7 linked regions of the Homo sapiens genome follow. The protein of the gene in region 5 purifies or fractionates together with the protein of the main gene of each other region. This does not show direct contact. Each region holds a gene or a part of one and is shown on either strand. Other genes may lie near its edges.

The links.
Region 1: the proteins of EFL1 (region 5) and TLN1 fractionate together in Homo sapiens (co-fractionation; one large-scale study listed by BioGRID). This does not show direct contact.
Region 2: the proteins of EFL1 (region 5) and NUDT5 fractionate together in Homo sapiens (co-fractionation; one large-scale study listed by BioGRID). This does not show direct contact.
Region 3: the proteins of EFL1 (region 5) and TPD52L2 fractionate together in Homo sapiens (co-fractionation; one large-scale study listed by BioGRID). This does not show direct contact.
Region 4: the proteins of EFL1 (region 5) and UFM1 fractionate together in Homo sapiens (co-fractionation; one large-scale study listed by BioGRID). This does not show direct contact.
Region 6: the proteins of EFL1 (region 5) and ACTR2 fractionate together in Homo sapiens (co-fractionation; one large-scale study listed by BioGRID). This does not show direct contact.
Region 7: the proteins of EFL1 (region 5) and PANK4 fractionate together in Homo sapiens (co-fractionation; one large-scale study listed by BioGRID). This does not show direct contact.

What each region holds. Positions count from the first base shown.
Region 1 is NC_000009.12:35,725,696-35,729,195, reverse strand, and holds part of TLN1 (talin-1), read left to right. Parts: intron 1-3,468; 5' UTR 3,469-3,500. UniProt on the Homo sapiens protein: High molecular weight cytoskeletal protein concentrated at regions of cell-matrix and cell-cell contacts. Involved in connections of major cytoskeletal structures to the plasma membrane.
Region 2 is NC_000010.11:12,168,392-12,171,891, reverse strand, and holds part of NUDT5 (ADP-sugar pyrophosphatase), read left to right. Parts: intron 1-983; coding exon 984-992; intron 993-1,121; coding exon 1,122-1,175; intron 1,176-1,933; exon of another isoform or gene 1,934-2,564; coding exon of another isoform or gene 2,565-2,634; intron 2,635-3,500. UniProt on the Homo sapiens protein: Enzyme that can either act as an ADP-sugar pyrophosphatase in absence of diphosphate or catalyze the synthesis of ATP in presence of diphosphate.
Region 3 is NC_000020.11:63,875,270-63,878,769, reverse strand, and holds part of TPD52L2 (tumor protein D54), read right to left. Parts: intron 2,955-3,500; coding exon 2,895-2,954; intron 1-2,894.
Region 4 is NC_000013.11:38,352,851-38,356,350, reverse strand, and holds part of UFM1 (ubiquitin-fold modifier 1), read right to left. Parts: intron 2,113-3,500; coding exon 2,055-2,112; intron 1,341-2,054; exon of another isoform or gene 1,280-1,340; intron 1-1,279. UniProt on the Homo sapiens protein: Ubiquitin-like modifier which can be covalently attached via an isopeptide bond to lysine residues of substrate proteins as a monomer or a lysine-linked polymer.
Region 5 is NC_000015.10:82,147,735-82,151,234, forward strand, and holds part of EFL1 (elongation factor-like GTPase 1), read right to left. Parts: intron 1-3,500. UniProt on the Homo sapiens protein: GTPase involved in the biogenesis of the 60S ribosomal subunit and translational activation of ribosomes.
Region 6 is NC_000002.12:65,230,831-65,234,330, forward strand, and holds part of ACTR2 (actin-related protein 2), read left to right. Parts: intron 1-3,500. UniProt on the Homo sapiens protein: ATP-binding component of the Arp2/3 complex, a multiprotein complex that mediates actin polymerization upon stimulation by nucleation-promoting factor (NPF).
Region 7 is NC_000001.11:2,516,597-2,520,096, forward strand, and holds part of PANK4 (4'-phosphopantetheine phosphatase), read right to left. Parts: intron 3,359-3,500; coding exon 3,205-3,358; intron 2,729-3,204; coding exon 2,547-2,728; intron 2,002-2,546; coding exon 1,920-2,001; intron 1,669-1,919; coding exon 1,568-1,668; intron 1,298-1,567; coding exon of another isoform or gene 1,286-1,297; exon of another isoform or gene 1-1,285. UniProt on the Homo sapiens protein: Phosphatase which shows a preference for 4'-phosphopantetheine and its oxidatively damaged forms (sulfonate or S-sulfonate), providing strong indirect evidence that the phosphatase activity pre-empts damage in the coenzyme A (CoA) pathway.

The sequences.
Region 1 (3,500 bases), on a different chromosome or scaffold from region 5:
TTGGAGAAGTATTTGAACAAGTATTTAACATCTTTGAGTCTGTTTTCTGATCTGTAAAAATGGAAATAATGACACCTACTGTAAGGATTAAATGAAATTATGTATACAATGCAAGTGACATAGTCAATAAATGGCAGATCACTATTGTTTTTTATTATCTCTATTTTTTAAAATTCTAGCTTCAAATGATACTTATCATGGAGACTTTTTGGTTCCCCTTCCCTGACCTAAAGGGATCTCTCTGAGCACACACCTTTTGGCTCTTACCACATCCTGCCCTCCGTTGTGATTCTGTACTTGGCTTATTCACTCATCTCGTGGACTGGGAGCCCTTTGAACTCAAAGGCTAGGTCTTACTGATCTTGGTCCCCAGCCACTGAAAGTTTGGCCCAGGGTCTTCCCCACAGCTGGCCCTCAAGGAATGCTTGCTGGGTGAATGGAGAATGTCTACATAATGGGAGGAGAGACACTGGGTGCCGGGTGTGCTTGTTATGGAGGTTATCTGTGCAAAAGCTGTGTGCATAGGATGGGCTCCCTAGGAGAAGATAATGCAGTCGTGATGGGATCTGTGTGGGGGCTGTGTGATTGAGATAATGTGTGTATAGAGAGAGTAAGGTAGCTTTGTGGGAAAGAGCTCTGCCTAGGCTGGGGTGCATCTGGGGAGAATGAGTGTGCATTTGAGTATGGAGGGGCTGTACCGGGGGAAGTTCTGTGCAGCCCTTCAGCTAGCTGCCCAGTCCAGCTCTAAATGAGTCTCCAGCAGCCTGAGGCCGGATATGTCAGTCTCACCCACAGCCCTCCCCCACTGCCAGCGGTTGCGGACTCAGAGGCCAAATTTGGTAACAGACTGAGTGTTACTCCCCCATCCCTCTTATATTCTGACTGTCTTAAGCTCTTTCCTTTTGTTCCTGTCTGTAACTCCCTATCTTTCTGCAATTCCCCTTGTGGGTATCTGCTCTGACTATATTCTCCAAGTACCCCAACTTTCTTAGCTCCAATACTCTTACATTCCATTCCTTGCTGGGATTTGACCTCCTGTCCTCCATTCCCCCCCTCCAATTGCCCAACTTCTTTGGAATGCATCGCAGGAATGTATTGAGGGAGGAGGAGTTCCCTGGGAGGGGGACACGGCAGTGGGGAGTTGCTGTTCCATCAAACACAATGGAAAAGGGAGCAAAGTTCTCAGGCCAAAGGAGGAATGAGCTAGCTTCTACTCATACTTGTAGCAGCCTTGTTCTTTGCCACCACCACCCACAATTCACTGATCAGTTCTTCGCGTCCACACACCCTCTTGTAGCTGTGTGAATATCCACTCTGGACCAGCTGGGGAGTAAGGGTAGGCATGACTCAGCTCCCTTATCGGGGTCTCACCAGAGGCTTCCGTGCTTGAGGAGGAAGGGGGTGTCTAAGTGTCCAGAGGAAATGGGGGGAGACATGCAGTTTCAGCTTAGTGTGAAGGGTCCTTTCAGTCCTGCTTCTTGGCTCCACAGACTCCTCCAGCTTCTCGGATCCACCAGCCCAGCCCTCATTCTTTCATGGTCAGCAACCCCATAGCCAGGTCTGTCCAGCTGGGACACAAGCGGATAGTAATAAGGTTGGGCAAAGTGCCCCAGGAGTGGGGAGGGGGCAGAGAGCTGGAACTGGGGAGACTGGGAGGGTCCTCTCTTATTGGGGAGTAAAGACAGAGAGCTGTGGTTCTTCTCTTTTGAGACTCTGGACTGCTTGTAAGGTCAGAAATGGTCTATCTGCCACTTGGTACCAGACCGCTGATCTAGACCATTTTCATACCTGCCTCCTGTCTCTTGTTTCTACTTAGATTTTCAATTCTCCTCATCCCATCTCTCCTAACTTCTTTACCCTCTACCCCTTCTTAACTTCCCTGGCTTTCAAATGCCTTCTGTATCCTAACACCCCCATCTCTGCTTTCCAGCCTTCCCCTCTCACCCTGCTTTTCCCCATTTGAGGCTTGTAGTTTGCCAGGAGGGGAATGGGCAGCTTGTATTTGCCCATTCTCTTAGTTAAGAGGCACCCAATCCCTGTACCAAGCAGGGGCACATCAGCAGCAGCCGGGCAGACTTGTCCTCTTGCAGCCTGTGCGCCACCTGCTGCCTCCAGTGCCTCCTCTAGCCTGCTGAGAGGGGGTGCCAGGAGGGTGGAAGAAGGTGGGGTAGGACTAGTATTCTGAGCTGCACTGAAAATACAGTCAGGGGAAGTGGGTGAGACAGAGCAGAATTCGAGACAGACTTGCTGAAGAGGAGAAAGCATGGGAGGAGTTGCAGGACTGAGTATTAACTTGATGACTTGGAACAAGCAAGGACTGAGTTACAGGGACTGGGTCCTTTCTCTGGCCTGTCTTGAAAATGTTTCCTGGCCTCCCAGAGTCTATTTCCCCTTCTCCAAAACACAAGAGTTGACCAGATAACTTCTGAGATAGATCCCTTTGAGTTAGAGAATCACATTTCTAGCTTGACTGCCTGGGAAGCCCAGTACAGGGCTAGGCTCCTTCAGAAGGCCCCCGCATCTCAGGTTAGAAAAAAGCTGGGGCAAGAGCGGACCCCTGAATGGCTTGAGCAACCAGTATTTGGTCTCCCTGCCAGGCTAGCTAGAGTTTGTTTGCAGGCTTCAAGAGCCTTAGGGAATTATAACATCTTCATTTTGCAGAGAAGGCAGCTAAAGCCATGAGAAGGAAGGTCACGTGGTGAGAAGAGAGCTCTGAAAATCCCGGACAGGGAAGAGCCAGCAGGACACAGCAGGAGACAAAGAGAGAAAAATACTGAACCAGGCAAAAATGAAAAGAAGGCAGGAGTAGGGCTGAGAAAGGTGATCAGGGACAAGGGGCAAGAGAGATACTTGGATGAAAGTAGGGAGGTACAAATTCCAGTGGTGGGGCAGGGCAGTGTCCTCAGGTAGCACTGCATTTCAGACCTGCTATTGTACCTTGCAGACCAGCTTCTCCTTTCCCTCAGATGTCTTAAATTGTTAGGACTTGGCCGGGCGTGGTGGCTCACGCCTGTAATCCCAGCACTTGGGGAGGCCAAGGTGGATCACGAGGTCAGGAGATCGAGACCATCCTGGCTAACATGGTGAAACCCCGTCTCTACTAAAAATACAAAAAATTAGCCAGGCATGGCAGCGGGCGCCTGTAGTCCCAGCTACTGGGGAGGCTGAGACAGGAGAATGGCGTGAATCCAGGAGGCGGAGCTTGCAGCGAGCTGAGATCGCACCACTGTACTCTAGCCTGGGCAACAGAACGAAACTCTGTCTCAAAAAAAAAAATTGTCAGGACTCATTCTTTTGATGTAAATAATTTTTCACTCTTTAAAATTATTAAATACAATGAAAACAACCTTATTACCATCTACTTTGGTGAGTCCCTTTCAAAAACACTCTTCCCTTGGACTCCACCATCTGGGGGGCCTCTTCTCCCACCAGAAGAGTGTATTCTAATGCCCTGATGCCATGGGTCAGGTATAGCCAGGCTGGAGAAAAGAAGCTGCCAC
Region 2 (3,500 bases), on a different chromosome or scaffold from region 5:
TTAGCCAGGCATGGTGGTGCGCACCTGTAATCCCAGCTACTCGGGAAGCTGAGACACAAGAATCACTTGAACCCAGGAGGCGGAGGTTGCAGTGAGTCAAGATCACACCACTGCACTCCAGCCCGGGCAACAGACTGAGACCCTGTCTCCAAAAAATAAATAAATAAATAAATAAATAAATAAATAAATAAATAAATAAATAAAATAAATCTTAATTTTTGAACTGCACATATACATATGAGACACTGTGGAAAAGTTTGGCAGTTCCTCAGCATATTAGATACAGAATTATTATATGATCTGGCATTTCATCTCCTAAGTCTACACCCAGAAGAAGTGAAACAGGGACTCATATACTTGCGTGCCTGTGTTCATGGCCGCCTCTGTGGAAACAACCCAGGTGTCTGCCAGCAGATGAATGCATCCACAAAGTGTGGTATACACACAAACACACATACACGCTGAAACATGCGATAACATGATGGGCAAATACTCTGATTCTACGTATCTGGGTGCCCAGAATAGACAAACTGATAGAGGAAGACAGTAGAGTAAGCGCTACTAGGGATGGGGAATTAGTGTTGAGTGGATCCCGAGTTTCTGTTGGGTGTCATGAAAAGTTCTGGAGATGGATACTGGTGGTGGTTGTGCACCTTTTTGAATGTTATTTAATGCTACTGAATTGTACCTTCATAGTGGTTAAAAGGTAAGTTTTTATATGTTCTGTATATTTTACATAATACGCAGATTCATATCTATAAAAATATACATACTATCGAATATGCTTTAAATTTTGCTACTTAACATTATGTGGAGAACAATAACTTCATACTGCTCGAGTTTGACAATGTATATAAATTAAGTTAGCAGAAACCCAGGCTTCTGTGAAATTCTCAAAGCCTTTTTGACGCCTCTTGTATAAAAGTCTTCCGATGTTACCACTCCAGGCCTTGCTGAAATGTTTTCCTTCTGTTTATTTCCAGGGGATGGAGGTATGTTCTGCAACTCCTGGTGGCCGAGCGTGTATGACTTAGTGTAGTGGTGATGGCTGCAGACATTTTGGGTTGTTTTGGTAGGCTCTTGACGTTAGCTTTGTTTTCACTTGCACTTTGTCTGTTTAGAGTTTGTGGAAGTCATTTCTTTACCCAAGAATGACCTGCTGCAGAGACTTGATGGTAAGCATTCTCCAGACCGCCACCCAGTTTCTCCAGTTCTCCCCGTCCCCATCCCAGCAAACTGGGTACTAAATATAACTCCATTTCTTTATCTTTTTTGTATCACTAAAGTCAAATGCCTAGCAACTTGTAAAACTGCAGGTGACCACTACTAATTTTCCTTTCTGGGTGGCACAGAGTTTGAAAATAAGAGCAAAGCATTCTGGGTCAAGTGCAAACTTTTGGTAGAGGCTTTTTCTCCTACAGAATGGCCCAGATGACATTCCTGCTGAGTAGCCAAAACGATTCTACACTTTAAACCTTCAGTCCATAGCAATGCAAAGGTGTGGGTAGATAAGCTGTTAGCTTTTCCTCAAGTATGCTAGTATGAGGGATGGTCCTTTGTGGAGGCTGTATGTTCAAGGAGAAATTGATGATGCTCCTTCAACAAATACTTGAGGTATTTCCTGTATACTCCGTGTGATATGCTTTTCACATAATAAACCAAACCAGCTGTGTGGCCCTTAGAAATCACTGGTCATGTAGATGCATTGTATAATTCTTGGCCACCCATCTTTTAGAGACTTTGTAAACAGTAAGCTTATGGGGAGAAAAGTCCTTTGATAAAACCACGAGAGGAGATACTGTATGGAGACATGAGGAGATACTGTGTGGAGACGAGGAGATACTGTATGGAGACATACCATGGGCCCTTCAAGGAGCACCTCTGTATGGGCTGGCAAATCCCTTTCACTCATCTAGAAAGAAGCAGACACTTGTCATCATGGGAATATTTTATTGGGTATAAGTGTTTTAGGTAATTGATAACTGATTTTTCTACTGTTTTTAAGTGATTACTTCAAATGTGATTTGAAGCATTGTTTGGCCTGAAGCTTTAAGACCAGTTTCTTAAGCTTTTCCCTGAGTTTCAGCAGCTTACGGTTTCAGTGAATAAGCAGAGCGCCTGGTTTTGAATTGTCTGTTGTTTGTTTGAAAATCTGAATGTGTCTTTCAAAGGCTGCTGTGATTTCTTTGGATAAAATCAGATTTCGTATCCCTTAGAGAGCTTCCACTCCTGCTTCACCTTTCCAAAAACTAGACCTAAGGTAGAAGCCACCTCGACAGCTCAAAGCCAGAGTTAGAACAATCATACTGAATAGATACAATAGTTTATCTGGTGCGTATTTGGAGAAAGGCATGACAATCAATACGAGGCAGCGCAGCTCGGAGTCACAGGCCCGACTCGGTTTGAGGCTCCGCGGACCATAATTAGCTATCACATCAAACAGGTTCTGTAGCCTCTCTCGGCTTTTTTCATAAAACAGGAACAATAACAGCCCCTCCCTCTGAGGAGGTGCGTGGAAAGCAGGGTGACGTAGGCAAGTGTGAAATGCCGTGCGGGGTTATCTTTTAGTAGAAGAGTATCCTTTTTGTAAAATGTCTTCCTTCTCCCTTCCACCTTCTTAACTTCACTTTTGGTCTTAGAAAAGGGAGAAAAAAATAGAATAAGTGAGGGGAGGTGGAGAGAGGGCTACTATGGCTATAAAGGAGGAGGGGTAAAAGAACCAAGTTGCCTAGCTTTAGCAGAATCAAAATACAGTAATCAAACCGTTTATTCAACCAGCAACATTTGAGAAGTCGGAAGGAAAGTATTACATTTTAAGATCAGTTTGCTGGCCGGGTGCGGTGGCTCACGCCTGTAATCCCAGCACTTTGGGAGGCCGAGGTAGGCTGATCACTTGAGGTCAGGAGCTCCAGACCAGCCTGGCCAACATAGTAAAACCCCATCTCTACTAAAAATACAAAAATTAGCCAGGCATGGTGGTACATGCCGGTAGTCCCAGCTACTCAGGAGGCTGGGGCAGGAGAATCGCTTGAACCCGGGAGGCGCAGGTTGCAGTGAGCCAAGATCGTGGCACTGCACTGCAGCCTGGCGACAAAGTGAGACTCCATCTCAAAAACATAAAAAAAAAATTAAAAAAAGATCAGTTTGCTACAAAGAGTAGCATCTGCCAGTTACCAAGCACCTGCTGTGCCCAGGTGAGTAGGACATGCTTCCTGCCTGCAAATGTCCCCAGGCTTGTTCCCAAACAAGCGGCTAGGAAAACAAGAGGCTGATTTTACATCTGGCAACCTCCATCTGAGTGAAACAAATTTTAATGAAAGCCTGTGGTAATAAGGTCCTGAGACCGCATTCTTGGTAGTAGATCTCCAGTCCTAACATGCACACAGTTTAACTTGCCGGGGGAACATATGTATCCCCTAGCAGCAGAAAAGATGGAATCCCTAAGATCCTACATAATCATCACCATCTGGTTTCAGAAAAGCAAAGCCCTACCCCAGCTA
Region 3 (3,500 bases), on a different chromosome or scaffold from region 5:
CAGACAGCGGTTTCGTCCCACTGCCAGTGAGCTGTCCCCTGGGCAGCACAGGGCATCTGGGGGACATCCTTGCACTCCCCCTCTCCTGAGTCTGTCTCTGGGGGCTGCCCCCACTCCCACTCAGGATGGACAAGTGATCCAGGCCTGGCCAGAGCACACCACCTCCAAGGCCGCAGCCATTAGTCCAGGGAGACCCATATGGGGCCACACTGTTGGGCTGCAGCAGTGGGGGCAGGGACTTCTCTGCCTGGTGAGTGCTCCCACCTCCCTGTTTGGTTGATGCTACCTTGAGTCGTGCTTTCTGTCACCTGCAACCAAAACAACTCCAAGTGAACCAGCTCATAACTGCAGGATCTATATGATGCCCCTCTCAGCACTGAGGTTTTTAGTTACCTCTGCCTATAAATAGAATGCAACAGGCAATTGTTTCACCACTCGCAGAACACAGCTGCTCTCGCATTCAGACATGACCCACTGAGAATGTGGCCGCATTGCAGCCTCATGGGGCCAGGCACCAGTGCTATCCTCCACCCACCGGCCACGTTCTCCTTCCCGTCCATCCTCCAGGGCGCCAATAGCTGAAAGGATCTACAAACACGTGGGTCAGGATGCAGGGAGCTTTTACTGCCTTCCCCTGCAGAGCTCTGGGCAGTGGAGGTACATCTACAGCCCATCTCCTGAAGCTGACTAGGAGAGGCACCAGCCAGGAAGAGCACGCGCCATGGCCACATCCTCAGGCCCCACCTCCCAAGCCGCATCCCTTCCGTCTGGGCCGTCCCGGCAGAAACCACCGCCCTCGGCCTCGGCCGTCCCGGCAGAAACCATCGCCCTCGGCCTGGGCCTTCCCACCAGAAACCATCGCCCTCGGCCTGGGCCGTCCCGGCAGAAACCATCGCCCTCGGCCTGGGCCTTCCCGGCAGAAACGCTTCCACTCTGGAACCGTCAGTTGACAGCTCTCGCCACAGAACTCAGGGGAATGGCCTCGGCCAGGTGATGCACTGGCCATATGCTTCCATGCTGAGCCACAGGTTTCTCCAGAGGGGTCGGGACGCTGAGTGTTGTAATAAGCTCTCTAAAACACTATTTATTTGAAATAGGATCCCGGCAGCTTTATGTCAGTTGGTTTTACAAAACAGCACTGAAGTCTCCTAAGACTATTTTCAGACTGAGTCTGCACTGTGCGTCCGCCTGATGCCCAAACTGCAAGGATGACCGTCACTGTCCCAACCTAGGAACCATCTGCTGCCCAGCAAAGTCACTGTTCAACAGCCCGAGACACAGCCCACCAGGGTCCCTAGAACACCCTGCTCAAGCCGGGTGCAGTGGGTCACGCCTGTCATCCCAGCACTTTGGGAGGCCGAGATGGGCGGATCACGAGGTCAGGAGATCGAAACCATCCTGGCTAACACCATGAAACCCTGTCTCTACTAAAAATACAAAAAATTAGCCGGGCGTGGTGGTGGGCGCCTGTAGTCCCAGCACTTTGGGAGGCTGAGGCAGGCGGATCACGAGGTCAGGAGATTGAGACCATCCTGGCTGACATGGTGAAATCCTGTCTCTACTAAAAATAGAAAAAATTAGCCGGGCGTGGTGGCGGGCGCCTGTAGTCCCAGCTACTGGGGAGGCTGAGGCAGGAGAATGGTGTGAACCCGGGAGGCGGAGCTTGCAGTGAGCCCAGATGGCGCCACTGCACTCCAGCCTGGGAGACAGAACGAGACGTTGTCTCAAAAAAAAAACCAAACAAACAAAAAAAACCCAGGGCAACATGCCATGAACCACCCGGGTCCCCAGAGCACCCAGATGTACAGCTGGCTGCTGTAGCCATGCCCACAAACCGCCCGGGTCCCTGGAATACCCAGGGCAACATGCCGTGAACCGCCCGGGTCCCCAGAGCACCCAGATGTACAGCTGGCTGCTGTAGCCATGCCCACGAACCACCCGGGTCCCTGGAATACCCGGGGCAACATGCCGAGAACCGCCCGGGGTTCCTGACACCAGCCTCCCACCGTGACACCAGACGCAAAGGCTCCATGTGCACGCAGTGCCAGCCTGGTCCCCCAGGACCTTCAAGACAAGCTCGGCAGCAACTGCTTCCTTTCAGACCAACATGGGAGGACTTTCTGCCCATGTTCTGTGGCAACGATTACAGCGCTTCCTTCTAAATAACAGATGAAAAAATCCCACAGAGACTATTTAAAAATATTCCCCTCCTCAGTTTAAAGACGTTATAATCAGATCAGAGCACAAGTAAATGAAGTGCTATTATCTAGTTTAAGGATCTCCAAATATTAGGAGTCACTCTGAACAACACCACTGACACACACATACAAAACTATCCACACTTGATCCACACTGGCTGATGCTCTGACAATGCAGTGCCTCCCAGATCGTGAGGATTTCAAATTTCCACCAGCATATCCTACACCATGCCCTCCACTCAAGAACTACCCCTAAAGGAGGAAAGGAATTCTGAGAACCCAACAGCTGGAGCTAAGCAGGGAAAAGGGTTAGGGTTAGAACAAACAAAAATTCGCCACCAACAAACCCAGGCCAAGTGGTGTTGTCCAGCTTGTGCACTGCCGGAAGCCAAGGAGCTCTATTAGTTAGAGATACAGCCAGGACCAGTGCAGGCCTCTTACATAAGGGACGCATATCAGGCAGAGGGGAGTTTTAAGTGTGGTCAGGTGGCTGAGTGAGTTTCTCTCAGCTACTATTCCCTGTTCCACAAAAGTTTAAAGGATAGTTTACCTGAGAGAAGAAAAGTTATAGGAAGAAAAAATAGCCAGCAAATACCAAAACAAGCTTTGTGCCAAGTGTGCACAGCCCCCTTCCCCGACTGAGTGTCAGGAGGCGGAGAGGAGGAAGGAGGAGGTGCTGATGATACAGGCACTCACAGGTCTGACTGGGTCACTTTCTCATTCCACTCTCCAAGTTTCTCAGAAGTTTTCACATAGCTAAAAACAGAAAGTCTACAGTGAATTATTTAGAAGAACAATTTTAACTCAGGCATCAAACTGCAGGTGAAGTTCCAGGGAAGACAGAGAGGGACCAGCTGGCAGGAACATCAACTCCACAGACGGCCCAAAAATGGGGTCCACTGCCTCAACCAGGCCCTGTGCAGGCCCCAGGCCGCCAGGTGAGCTGTGGGTATAGCGGAACTGATGTTCCCTTTTCTGTCACCTGGCAGTAGCCCCTGGTCTCTCGCTAGGAGATTCTTGGGCAACAGCACTGCTGTGGGGGACTGGAAGGGCACAGCCCACAGCTCCAAAACACCCTTGGGATTCAAAACTTACGATGTCCTAGGACAAAAACATGGGCCTCTCATATGTGAGATTTATGAAATGTGACCTGTTCTGTCTTTGTATAGGAACATGTCTTCTGGGAAACATTCCACAGCCACCCCAACCTTGAAGGGTATGTTTCAGAGAAGCCACGTGGACAGGGCCAAGTGAGAAAGCAGCACTCCCCAAATTCAGAGCTGAGCGACATCTGGGACAGGT
Region 4 (3,500 bases), on a different chromosome or scaffold from region 5:
ATGAACTATATAGGCCTCTCAGATTTCCAAAGCTAGAGTACTACAAAGTTTTTAGTTACCCTACTGATTGAGTCTTTTACATCATGCCCATTTTAAGATAATCTATGTATTTTCTTAGTCACATCCATGTAGTAGCAACCTATAACTTTAAAAACCAAAAGCAATTGCTGACACAGTTTTCCCTTTAGGCAGAATGTGGAAGAAATGGTTAAACCATGAGGAGGCATCACTGGTGATGTAAAATGTAGAATCTATTCCTTTTTGTCCTACAGTACTGACAGGTTTTCTACTGAATGCAAAGTATTCTTTTATGGTCTTCTGTTTTCATTTATTTTCCTCCTCCGATCCCCCATAATTCTTATAATTTAGGGCTCTTTGCAGGTTTCAACAATTCATTACTTACCCCAGTCATGTGCTGGGAAATTTTATTATTGCTTACTAAGGCAATTTTACGAGGGATTTAAATCCAGACTCTTGCTTTCTTGAGTCAACTTTTGTTCTCACTGAATGATTCTACAATGTTATCTTGTGAAAGCCCCTCTCACAACGATCTGAAAGTCATATCCTTTCTAAATATGTAACACCTATGATTCATAATAGTGATCCTTTTCCACTTAATGAATAGTAAATATACTTTCTCTTATGGTTTTCTTAATATTTTCTTTTCTGTAGCTTACTCTACTGTAAGCTTTACTTATAAACTACCTTAATCAATATATATGGTTGTGTGGTGTTTCTTATTCACTACTGTATGTTAAGATTTTCTTCTATTTTAATTAGAAAACCAAGATCACAAAAAATGCCTTTGCATTATAAAGGACACACAATGAGTAACTAAAAAATATAACAAATATTAAATAAAGCTTATATAGATCTACTTCTTAAATCTGGAATTTGTGGATTCTGTTATGCCCCAGACTAGAATATTTCTTGCAAGTAATCTGTGCAGCAAAAAGTAATGACAATGCTATACTCAGATTTGTGTCCCATCTCATTTTACTTATTCTTTCTGCATGAAGAATCTATCAGACACAAAACAAATGCTACTAGTTGGCAGTTTAATTCTGAATGAGTGACAAATAATGTTAGTGATTCCTGACAATACAAGGAGCTTTGAGCACTGATGGATTGGCTGACTTGCCATAAATCAGTGAAGTACAGGGCAGGATTGTGTGTTAAGCTATTTTTTATTAATGTAGTTAAGAAAATTATTTTTCTGTGACTATAAACTTTTCAAAAGATTCTGAACCAAAACGTTTTGATTTGGGTTACAACGTACCTGTTTAGCACTTTTAACTTCAACAGAAAATTTCAGGAAATAATGTTTTTACTCGAAATCACTTGATCAGAGAGGAAGGACAGGTATTAACTACTTCCATTTTGCAGAATAAAAAAGAGGGATTTGCATCATGTCACATAGCTAACTAATGACGCACCTACAACAGGAACCCTAAGTCTCCGAAGTCACATTTGGGTGCCATTTCTAACAGATCAAGCTACTTTTTCAAGTGTCATGTCCAAAAAGTTGCATTATAGATATTTCTAATAATTTTGGATGAAAAAAATTGTTTCTTATGAAACAGAAAATTCAAACATGTTTTAAAAAACTAGAAACTTTTCAAAACAACAAATTTTACTGACAGTCCACATGCTCATATAGAAAATTTGAAAACTATGATAAAGATTCTATGAAATTGCAATTTTGGAATCAAGACTAGTAAAATATGAGTATATAGAATATAATGTGATATAATGTTGCATTTTAAAAAACATTTAAAAATCAGCACCTTTTTAGTTTTCATAAAAATTCTCATAAAAATTCATTAAATTCTTATAATTTTCAATGGTTGCATTAATCAGATATGTCAATTTGTTTAACTCATGCTTCTTATATCTGAAAGTAAGTCTTAACTATCATCCTACTTTTTGATAACATAAACCTAGTAATGAAGCCACATGGAAATGATGGGTCAAAGTGCATGCAACTCTTAAAGACATTTGAAGCATATTGGCAAACCGCATTCCATAAAGGTTGTTCCAACTTCTGTACTTACTTCTTCTGCTGCAAACTTTAAGACTGCTGTGAAAGGTGTACTTTCAGGAACACTGAGTCTGCAAGAAGAATTTTAAAACAGTTTCTTTTAAAGTCACCATTTTCTAAAAAAGCCCCTTTGTTCCTTATTTCCACTACTGTAGCCAATCTGGACAAAGCTGTCTTTTCAGTTTCAAAGTTAGTGATTTTGATTGCATACTACATTCTTTAACTCAAAATAATAATAATAATAATAACAACCCAAACAGCAAATAGCCTTAGAGCTGGGATGGTGCCCGAGCTCCACTTGAGAATTAACCTTTAAGGTGTAGATTTATATATTTCTAACACTTTCATACATGTAAGTCTAGCATATGAACTGCTGTTTGTTTCTAGAGATGGATTTCAAAAAGGTGAAGCTCTCCTTGGTCTTCAGTCCACTTTACCTCCCATCTAAATATCTATGCACTTGACCCAGTAATGTTATCATTTTCATTATAAGTAGAAGGCTACTTGGGAAGCATCACTGGATCATAAAGCTTTTGATGAACCTTCTGTGTACTCTTAATAATCATGTTCAAAATTAGTAGACCAAATTAATGAAAATGCATGAAGTTCATTATGTCAAAATGCCAATAATGAAGTGATTTTTCTACCATCATTTAAAGTGGGCTAAGTAAAATGTGAAATAACATTTTGGAGAGGGATGAGTGATTTTGTTAACTGACTCATATAACGGCAAGTATTTTAAAGATCATGAATAAATATATTTTTTTTTTCTTAATGACTTAGTCCCAGGGTCAATCTGTATGAACTTTCCAATAAAAAAAATCAAAACAGAAATTTACTTTATACCTTAAGAAAACACTTTAAGACACAGTAAGAGGTTTTTAAAACTTCTTTTAAAAAATAAGATCCCTAAGGTAACATAAATTACAATGAGTGAAAACAGAAAACAATCTTTCAAAGCAGAGGAGACTTACAAGCTAACATTTCTCACTGAAACTTCTCTATTTGTCCACCATATTATTGTATTGTTCTTAAGTGTCTCAATACCAGCTACCATTATTCTCATGTATATGCCCAGGCTCCTCACTCAGTCTACAGATCTCTGACTATAAGAATCATTATAACAGGAACAGCATATGGTACCAGTTTTCAGTAATAGAAATGTGAATAGATTTCTTGGCTGCCCTCATTCCACAACTCCAAAATACTATTAAAGGATGAAAATGGGTATCATTTTTACCCTTTCTTTACTAATGTTTTTGGGGGGTGGAAAAAAATAAAAACATATAAAGGATAGCCATTTGTTTAAAAACTAACGAACTGGCAATGTCATAGTTTACAAACTAGGCAACAGTATTTTACAAAGTATTTTTGCAGTGTATATGTAGTTAAGAATCTGAGATTCATTTTCCTAAAACTCTGCATCAATTGGAGAACTTCTAAACCCTTGGAGTTCAAT
Region 5 (3,500 bases):
AAAATTCCTTTGCAGAGTAATGAGAGTCTAAAAGAAATCAATCATGAATGATCTCAATGACAGAAGAAGGAAGAAAGCCCCTCCTCAACCCCTATTTTAAGAGGACATGCACAGTAGAAGGAAGAAGAGGATACCAACTCAGGTGGATCAGTAGCATGTCCAAGATGCTCAAAATCAAAACAAGCTGAGTGTATGTACCAAAGTAAAAGAGCTAAAGACAGTGCAAAGAGCTTTTTCCAATACTGGTTGAATATCTCTTCTCCAAAATGAGTGGGACCAGAAGTGTTTTACATTTTTTATTTTTTTAGATTTTGGCATATTTGTATTATATACTGTTTGAGCATCCCAAATTAAAAAATAAAGGCTGGGCAGGGTGGGATTACGCCTGTAATCCCAGCACTTTGGGAGGCTGAGGCGGATGGATCATGAGGTCAGGGGTTCGAGACCAACCTGGCCAACATAGTGAAATGCCGTCTCTACTAAAAATATAAAAATTAGCCAGGTGTGGTGGCATGCGCCTGTAGTCCCAGCTATTCGGAAGGCTGAGGTGGGAGAATTGCTTGAACCCAGGAGGTGGAGGTTGCAGTGAGCTGAGACCATGCCATTGCACTCCAGCCTAGGTGACAGAGTGAGAATCCATCTCAAAAAAAAAAAAAAAAAAGTTTCAAATTTTAGATGATTTGGGATTTTGGATTTTCAGATTTGGGATACTCAACCTATACTTTCAAAATAAGGAGACATGTCTTGTCTACAACTTATAGAAACTAGTATCATGTTACAGAGGATAGCAAGAAAATAGGGGTTCGCAATACCTATGTTACCTATCTTTCTCTTCAGTGAGGAGAATGGTGAACAAACTATAGCAAGTGGAACAAGTTGAAGTGGGAGAACACTGAAGTTCACGGTAGCTCAGCAGTTGATGACTAAGTGCTTGGCCTTCTTAAATGAGTTCAAGTCTCCAGGACCAGAATTATATCTCACCATAATAAGAGAATTTGCCCTTTTGAGAAATTATGAATAGTAAGGTAGGTGCCAGACTATAGGAAAAAGGTAAATAATGACTAAACTTTTTGAGGATATAAACACTGCGTTCCATAAATTGCAGACTAGAAAGCCATATGCTAATTTTCTGTAGAATTTTAAGGAAACACTATAGACATTTGTACATGTTTATACAAGTATGAGGTAAATCTTGGGAGACAACATGGACTTTCTAATACAAAATACTAACCTAAGCTTTTTTTTTTTCTAACATGATTGGTAAGCTGATAATTGGGGGACTGTTATAGATGTAAAGGACCGTAACTTCATCGAAACATTTGATTTTCTACCTGTTGAGTTTTATTTCTCATCAGACAAGGACACATGAAAAAAATGAATAAGAAATCAATGTGTTAAGATGGTGGTGATGTGACTTCTTTTTCTTGCCATTAAAATTTTTCTCCTGTTTACTGTTGTAATGCTAATTATGTTATATAACTTAAGAAAAAAATTAAGTGTATAGACTCAGTACTCATAAGAAAAAAATTAAGTGTATAGACTCAGTACTCATACACAAATAAATATAGGAGTTCATACAACTACATGATTTCTACAGTCTAGTCAATTACCAAAAATTTGGATTCTGCTTTTTGGGGAACAGAGTGGGAAAACATAACTTTGTTTTGAAAAAAAAGAAATAGGGTTGATCTTGACTTCTCATATGAATTAATGAGAAGACGTAATTGTTAAATTTCATTAAAAGAAGAATGTTGTATTTCATGTAGGAGGTAACAGTGTAGACACAGACATGTTCTCTACTGGTTGGAGGGTATGTGAGGTGCTGTGTTCAAATATAGTTGCTTTAAGAGGGATGCTGACCAAATAAATTATGTCCAAAAGACAGCAACTGAAATGGTGAAAGGATACAGAAATCCTAACAGAAAAACAGGTGAAGGATTTGGAGTTTTTCTCCTGGATATAAAACTAGAAAACTAATGATTTATTTCAAATACATAAAAGAGTTGTTGCATGGAAGAGAGATGAATGGTGGTACAGATGATTGGAAACTAGCAGGTGACAGACATTTTGCTCAATATAGAAAAAAACACCATTAAATCACGAAGCTGGCTGTGCACTGGCCATCAATAGAAGTATTCAAATAGTGGTGGTATAAGCATTTGTCGGGGTAGGAGAGGCTGGAGAAAAGCTCTTAGGTCTTCTTCAAAGATTTGAGGGATTAAGATTTGATTTTAACTCTTACTTCCGCCTTAAGAAAGTTCTCAATGAAAATGAAAAATAGCATCTGAGAATAGTCTAGATTGGTGTTTCCCAAACAAATCTACAAATTCCATGGCTGTTAATAGGCATGCTATATTCAAATAAGGTTGAAAAGCACTGTATATGACATGCTGTATTTGGAGATTTGATTCACAATGCATACTGGCCTTAACCCAGCTATTTTTCAAATGCTGCTAATGACGCTCAGTCTCACAAAAACCTTAATGTGATGGAAGCCTAAATTTCTTTTGGGAAAAAAAACAAACAAACTTAGATTTCTGCTTTCAGGAATTAATCAGCAAAAGAACCTTCCTAAAAAGAATGTAATTAACCACATATTGACTCAAAGGGCCTCAGGGTTAGAGGAAACTTAATAATTTGGCCGATTCTCTCATCCAGGGCTCAATCCTCCTTTATATTCTCTTCACTACTGAAACAGTTCCATGATCTTGAGAGAATAAGAGAACTACTGTGTGCCAGGTGCTGTTCTGGGCACTGTATTTAAAAAAATTGTGTTATTTTAATCTTCACAATCTGTATGAATTATTATCCCCTTTCTTTACCTATGTAAAGAAACTAAGTCTCAGTGAACTAATACCAGTGAAAAGTCCAAAGAGCTACTAAGTGCCAGGGCTTCATGTCTCCTGGGATCTTAAAGGTTGCTTCTCCCAAAGAGAGAAAAATCAGGAATAGGATTTGATATAATGGTTAGCAGTGAATAAAGCCCCAAATAATTTTCTTTCTCAGAAAGAACCCAGAATTCACAAAAGCCCTTTTGTGTTATGAGTACAAGAATGTTGCCTTATTCTTTGATCATTTTCAGAACAACTTTGGTTACCCAGACTGATATGGTTATTTGCTTGAGATAAAATATGGCACAGGTTTGGATGGTAACACATATGAGCAGTTTAAACCTCATTTAGCAGACCTCTCATTACGGAAAGGATTCTATTTGTTGCAAAAGAAAAGATCTTTAGTAGTCATGTTTTTCCCCTCTCAAGATTTTAATACTTAAGATATCTGGCTTTCAAAGATCTTAGTTTGTTAGTAAATCAGAAGATGGTACAGCTTCTGCAAAACATACTAAACGAGTTTAAGATTTTTGGGTCTGCCAGGTGCAGTGGCTCACGCCTGTAATCCCAGAACTTTGGGAGGCCAAAGTGGGTGGATCACTTGAACTCAGGAGTTCGAGACCAACCTGGGCAACGTTGCGAAACTCAGTCTCTACAAAAAACACAAAA
Region 6 (3,500 bases), on a different chromosome or scaffold from region 5:
TTCACTTGAGGTCAGGAGTTTGAGACCAGCATGGCCATCATGGTGAAACCCCGTGTCTACTAAAAATACAAAAATTAGCCGGGTGTGGTTTCTGATGCCTGAAATCCCAGCTACTTGGGAGGCTGAGGCAGGAGAATTACTTGTACCTGGGAGGCAGAGGTTGCAGTGAGCCAAGATCACGCCACTGCACTCCAGCCTGGGCGACAGAGTGAGACTGTCACAAAAAAAAAAAAAAGCTGATTGTAGTATGTTATTGATTAGTCTTGTGTCTAATCCATGTTTTTAAGATTCTTTTCCTTAAGACAAGTGATCAATTCCTGTCATAAATGAAAAAAGTGAGTGTAATTAATTCAAATAAAATTTATCTGTTCTTATGCTTCTAGTTATTTTAAAATTTTATGCAGATTTTCTATGGACATGATTGGTTTCAAATGAAGAAACAGTGCTGTTAAAATACATGAATCATATAACAGGAATGCTGTAATAGTTCTGAGTATGTAGAGGACTAGGAACCGCTTAGATTGTGTATTCTGTTTCTTACCATTTGTAGACATGAATAATCATCTTGATTTTATTTAGATACCTGAAGTTATAATGATTCCTTTATAATTAAATATTAAAGAAGATATTCAGATGTAATTTTGCAAATTTATGGAAATAGTTGTTATCCTAAGGTGTTTTCATTTGCTCCTTACATGCCTTAGGTTTTAAAATTGTAGGCTGGCTGGGTGTGGTTCCTCATGCCTGTATTTCCAGCATTTTGGGAGGCCGAGGTGAGAGGATTTCTTGAGGCCAAGAGTTTGAGACTAGCCTGGGTTAGTATAACAAGACCCCATATCTAGTAAAAATAAAAATAAAATTACAGGCTTTTTAAAAAGTTACGATTCTTTTAACCTCTCTGGCAGACCCAAATTAAATATTCTAGGACAGGAGTGTCCAGTCTTTTGGCTTCCCTGGGCCACATTGGAAGAGGAATTGTCTTGGGCCACACATGAAATACACTAACAATAGCTGATGAACTAAAAAAATCACCAAAAAAATTTCATAATGTTTTAAGAAAGTTTGTGAATTTGTGTTGGGCCTCATGCAGCCCGTGGGCCATGGGTTGGACAAGTTTGCCTGGAAACAAGTTTGTACTTACGATCACATGACCAATGTTGGTCCCGCTTGATTTTCTATCTCCCAGCTTGACCAGTGTCTCAGTAGGGTTGCCCAGAGGAGGAAAACTCATTTGATCCAATAATTTATGTGGATTTTAACCATTCAAACCTCCTTCTGAAATCAAGCCACTTAAAGTGGCCCAGATAGGTGAAAATCTGGAGGTCTGTGAAACTCTAGGTTTAGGTCCTCTTCACGAGCTAGGCCCAGGCCCCTGGTGTTACGTGTCTTGTTACCAGACTAGGGTGATTTCATCAGCATTGAGTTAGATCACCAACAAAATGAAGGTTTCTCCAGTGCGTGCTATGTTGCTGGCACAGTGCTTAATAAGGTCCAGTCGTACAGAGAAGCTTATAGTGCTAGAATAATTGCATTTGCATTTATGTAATTGACATTTGTAGTTGATTGTGGCCTGCTTTATCGGGCTTATGCTACTTTATATGTTGAATTTAGGAGTGTTTGAAACAGAAACAAACCAAAACCAAATTTGGTTTCATCTTGCAAAATGCTTTGGTATAAGTAGAATAAATATTTTGGTGGCCTAAGATCAGAACAGTCACTGTGCAGTTAACTTACTAAAGAACATCAGTACCATGAGATAAAATTAGTAAGGGGAAAATAAATATTAAATAAGCCCAAATGGGGCTTTATAAATCCCAGGTTATTATTTTTTTGAAGAGAAAAAAAAAATGTACTTTTAGAGCAGATGTAGATAGAATTTTTCATTTTTGCTTGAAAGAACATTATACTGTTCATATTCTTACCATTTGATGACTCAGTGGGAAGTAAGGGAACTAGTTTAAACCACACTGCTGTGAAGAGGAAACTATATATGGTAAAATCTATTTCTTAAACACAGCCTTACTGCACACAATGAAAGAACGAAGTCACCAAGTCTTAAAATGATTGACATGGGGGAGGAATTTCAAGGATTAAGATGATACCAATGATACCAAATGATAGTTTAGAAAGGAATGTTTTCTTTGTATTTTATCACATCATGGTTTAGTTTTTTTTTTTTTTTTAGACAGAGTCTTGCTCCGTTGCCCAGGCCAGAGTGCAGTGGCATGATTTTGGCTTACTGCAGCCTCCATCTCCCGGGTTCAAGCAATTCTCCTGCCTCAGCCTCCCCAGTAGCTGGGATCACAGGTGTGCACCACCACGCCAGGCTAATTTTTGTATTTTTAGTAGAGATGTGGTTTCTCCATGTTCGTCAGGCTGGTCTCCAACTCCTGACGTCAGGTGATCTGCCTGCCTCAGCCTCCCAAAGTGCTGGGATTATAGGCGTGAGCACTGCGCCCAGTCTAGATTTTTTTTAATACTGATTATTATTATTATTTGCAGAAGTAATCAGATTGTCAGTTTTATATTATTGAAAAATTGGGGCCAGGCACAGTGGTTGATGCCTATAATCCCAGCACTTTGGGAGGTAAAGGTGGGAGGATTGCTTGAGGCTGGGAGTTCAAGACCATCCTGAGCAACAGCGAGACCCCTGTCTCCACAAAAAATAATATAATTTAAAAATTATAATTTTTATTTTTTCTTTACTGCTTCTTGCAGAGCAGGACTACCCCATAGGCAGTGTGCCCAGAGTAGCCAGTATAATTTTTTTTTTAATTATTTTATTTTATTATTGTTTTTGAGACAGAGTCTCACTCTGTCTCCCAGGCTGGAGTGTATTCATGTTATCTCGGCTCACTGCAACCTCCGCCTCCCAGGTTCAAGTGATTCTTCTGCCCCAGCCTCTCAAGTAGCTGGGATTACAGGCATGCACCACCACGCCCAGCCAATTTTGTACTTTTAGTAGAGATGGGGTTTCACCATATTGGCCAGGCTGGTTTCGAACTCCTGACCTCAAATGATCCTCCTGCCTTGGCCTCCTAAAGTGCTGGGATTACAGGTGTGAGCCCCCACACTCAGCCTTTTTTTTTCCTGACAGGGTCTCACTCTGTTGCCTAGGTGGGAGTGCAGTGGTACAATCATGGCTCAAGGCTCAACGTAGCCTCAACCTCCCTGGGCTCAGGTGATCCTCCCACCTCAGCCTCCCGAGTTTCTGGGGCTACAGGTGTGTGTCACCACGCCTGGCTAATTTTTGTATTTTTTGTAGAAATGGGGTTTTGCTCTGTAGCTTCAGGCTGGTCTCGAACTCCTGGGCCCAAGCAATCCACCCACTTTGGCTTCCTACAGTGCCAAGATTACAGGTGTGAGCCACCATTCCCAGCCAATTATTTTAGTTCTTGTTATTATAACTGTTAATGTTTTCACTTTTGAAGTAATGTGAAATAGTGCAATTTTTGCTATCTTGATGGATGAATATATACCCTGTATGAAAACTGGTGCTG
Region 7 (3,500 bases), on a different chromosome or scaffold from region 5:
TGGGGCACCCCTGCTGGCAACCCCTGGGGCTGGAGAAGCAGCCTCTGGGTGGGCAGGGACCTCCAGAGCAAAGGGGACGCCTTCCAGGTGGGAAGCCCATGCCGGGCAGAAGCTCCACGTGGAAAAAGCCAGTGACTTCCCAAAGCCAGTGCAGAAGGCGGCAGGAGCCCCACCTTAACTACCACGGACCACAGCCGGGATCGCCTGGTGCTGCCTTGCCAGGTCGCAGGCTCCTTCTATCCTGACAAATGGGTTCAAATCTTCGCTTTGACTTTTTTGGACAATATAAACTGAAATAAATGACTCCATCTCTCTGCATGTCAGTTTGATCCTCAGTAAGGTGGGGGCCCCTCCTGCCTGGCAGGGCTGTGCCACTGGTGGGGTACCAAATAGGTAACAAGCGCCTCCTGAACGGGGCCCCCGAAGCACTGTGGCCGTCCACGCAGTCACTCCAGGTTACAGTCCAGGACATTTGGCAAATTATGCACACTTGGCAAATCAGAAACTGAGGCTGGAAGACACCAAGCCCCTCTGCCCAACAGCAGGGCAAAAGCTGAGAGCCTGGGGCTCTGCCAGGCCCCCAGAGCCTCGCCCCCACTCCCCTGCCTAGTGCTGGCGGTGGGAAAGGCAGACCAGGGCTGCGGCCAGTGTGGTGCGTCTGTGCGAGGCCGTGGCCTGGTGTGAACTGCAGGACCCACACAAAAGGGAGGCGCCCTCCTGAGAAGCCAAAACTCAACAAGTCGCGGTCTTGAAAATACTGACACTGAACCCCATGTCTACAAATGACAAGCAACTTCCTGCCAACAATGCCAGCGGCCTGTCCTGAGGGGTCCGACTAGCTTTGTGCGTGACCTCAGGTTAACTGCTCACAGCTACAGAAGGAATGAGCCCCGCGGGGGGGCACGGTCGAGGACCCTGACAGCCTGTGACACGGGGCGGTTCCTGCCATGTGGGGCTGTGCTGGGGGCATCCCGTGGCTGACGCAGGTCCTGGCGGGGGACCCTTCCGGAGCAGCTCCAACTCGGCAGACATGGGGTGCGTCTCCTAGCCCGCCAGTGCCACCCAGCTCAGGCCAGGGCAAACCCACTGGGGATCCAAGGAATGAGCCGGGACACCCCGAGGAGAGCAGACTGTAACCGACAGACCATCAGCCACAGTGCGCGGCAGTGTGCGGCAGAGCGCGCAGTCCTAGGCAGGGCCCTGGGTGGCTCCTGCGGTTTCGGGTTTCAACTCCAAAGTGGACGGGCCTTCTGGCGTGGGGAGAGGTCCCCGTCACCCCTGAACTTTAGCAATCTCTCTGCAAACAAGAAGGCCGGATCACACAGACTCCGTAATTCCTGCTGAATGTTTCCAAAATACGAAAGCACCCAATGAGGGAGATGGGAAAGCAAGCCACAGTGTCCTTCTCTTGCCCCTAGTTATACCCCAGGTCCATGGGAGGATTCGCCATGGGCAGAGGCGCCTTTCAGCCGGGACAGCCACAAGAGGCTTCGCTCAGGGACAGGCGAGGTGAGTGCGGCATAGGCTGCTCCCCTGGGGCCCGGGGCGGCCAGAGCCCACTACTCACAGTGCCACTCCGCGCCCGCTGCGCCGGGCCGAGCTCGGGTGATGCACTCATCAGCCCGGAGCTGCCTGCATAGTTCTCTCCCCAGCTGTACTGGTTAGGATCTGGAAAGCAAGAAGCCAGGTCACTTGTGTTAACCTTGCCCTTGATTCAAAAGCAGGAGAGTGGAGGAGGAAAGGGTATAAAATCGCTTATTAACTAAATTGTTAAAATGTTAGACATGCCTGCTGCTGTCACTTTCTGAGGACTCACGCTCCCCACCCCACCTCCACCCTGGGCCGCCCTGGCCTGGAGCACAGGCCCAGGCCACAGCTGAGGCCCCACGCTGCTCAGGGGCGCCAGCACCGCGACTCACTGTCCTGCTCAGCTCCTTTCAGGAACGCTCCGATGGCTCCCAGGTAGCCTTCGTGCCTCAGAAACAGCGCCTGCACTTCCCCCTGCCGTGGCCAAAGCACACGTGCTGCTGTTGGCCCCACACAACACCCGGTGCCTCCGCAAACCAGCTCAACGTGCGCGGGCCTCGCACCGCGCGGCCCAAACCCTCGAAGAGGCGCCATGGCACCCACGGCATACTTGCCAGTGGAATCGCGCCTGGCACCAGAGGGCGGGCTGCTGTTTGAAGAAAGCTAAGGGTGAGATAGCTTCTCCCATGCAGCGAGTCCCTGGCCCACAAGTCTCTGCGTCAGGCATGTGGGTGGGCGTGCCTCTGCGGGGGCAGGGGCACCCTGACCCCAGCGCAGATCAGCAGGCCTGCCTGGAGCTCTCTAGAATGCTCATCACTGGTGATGTACTCAAACTCAGGTGGCCACGGTGCCACAAAATGTAGGCTGCCCAGAATCAGTCAGAAGGGAGGGGTGCTGGGCTTCTTGGCCCCCACCCTCCAGGCCTCCCTGGGGGTGCTGCGGTGTCTAACCAGCATGACTGATTGGGAAGATCCTGGGGGGTCTGCGTTAGAGGCTGGGGAGGGCGGCGCATCCGTTACCTTGGAGAAGAAGTTGATGCTATAGGTGATGGTGCGCATGGTCACGGGGTGGCCCCGGATAAAGAAGCCTCCAAAGTACACGCGGTCCAGGCTGTGCAGCCGTGCGTGGAGGCAGGCCAGCTGCCCAATGTCGTTGCTGATCATGTGCAGCAGGCTCTTCGCCATGTCTTCTTTGGAGAACTCTGAGGAAGGGAAGGAAAAGGCACTCATCTCCAAGTACAGCAAGTGCACGACATGAGAGCGAGCAGGAGGGGAGGGGGAGAGAGAGCTGAGTGGGAGGGGAGGGGGAGAGAGAGCTGAGTGGGAGGGGAGGGGGAGAGAGAGCTGAGTGGGGGAACTGGAGCCCAAGTGCGGGAGGCTGCGTGTGATGTGTGAATCATTCCTGGACGGATTAAGCTTTGTTTTGAAGGAGGAAAAAACCCAATCAGGAAACTATTTTTTCTTCCAAAACCAAGACCGTGGCGTTTATCTGCCGACGTTCTGAGCAGTGGGCCTGAGCTGCAGCGACTCGGCAGGAAGAGGTTACAGGGCTGACACCCAAGACCCCGACTCTCCAGGGAGCAGTTGTGGGAAAGCAATGGTGGGGGAAGCTCCTGTCCGTGAGACCCCAAGTGTCCCCACCATCCTGCTCTCTGGCGGCAGAGGCCGGGGTGAGCACCTTGGTCGGCGGTGGCCGACTTCCCGAAGCTGCTGGCGATGAGGTTCCCGCTCAGCCCGAGAGTCTGGTGGGCGCCGCCGTAGACGTCCCGCACCAGCATGTCCACATTGCTGTGCTGGCCCCTCGAGGCCAGGTGCAGGAGCTCGTCAAACTTCTGCAGGACACGGCGAGGGGGCGGGTGAGGCGCCAGGAGCTGCTGGAATCCCCACGACCCCAGAAACCAAGCCCATGGCAGGAGGCACGCGCGGGCAGGGGGTAAATGGGCCCTCATCGCGTGGGACCAAAGGCAGGAGGCG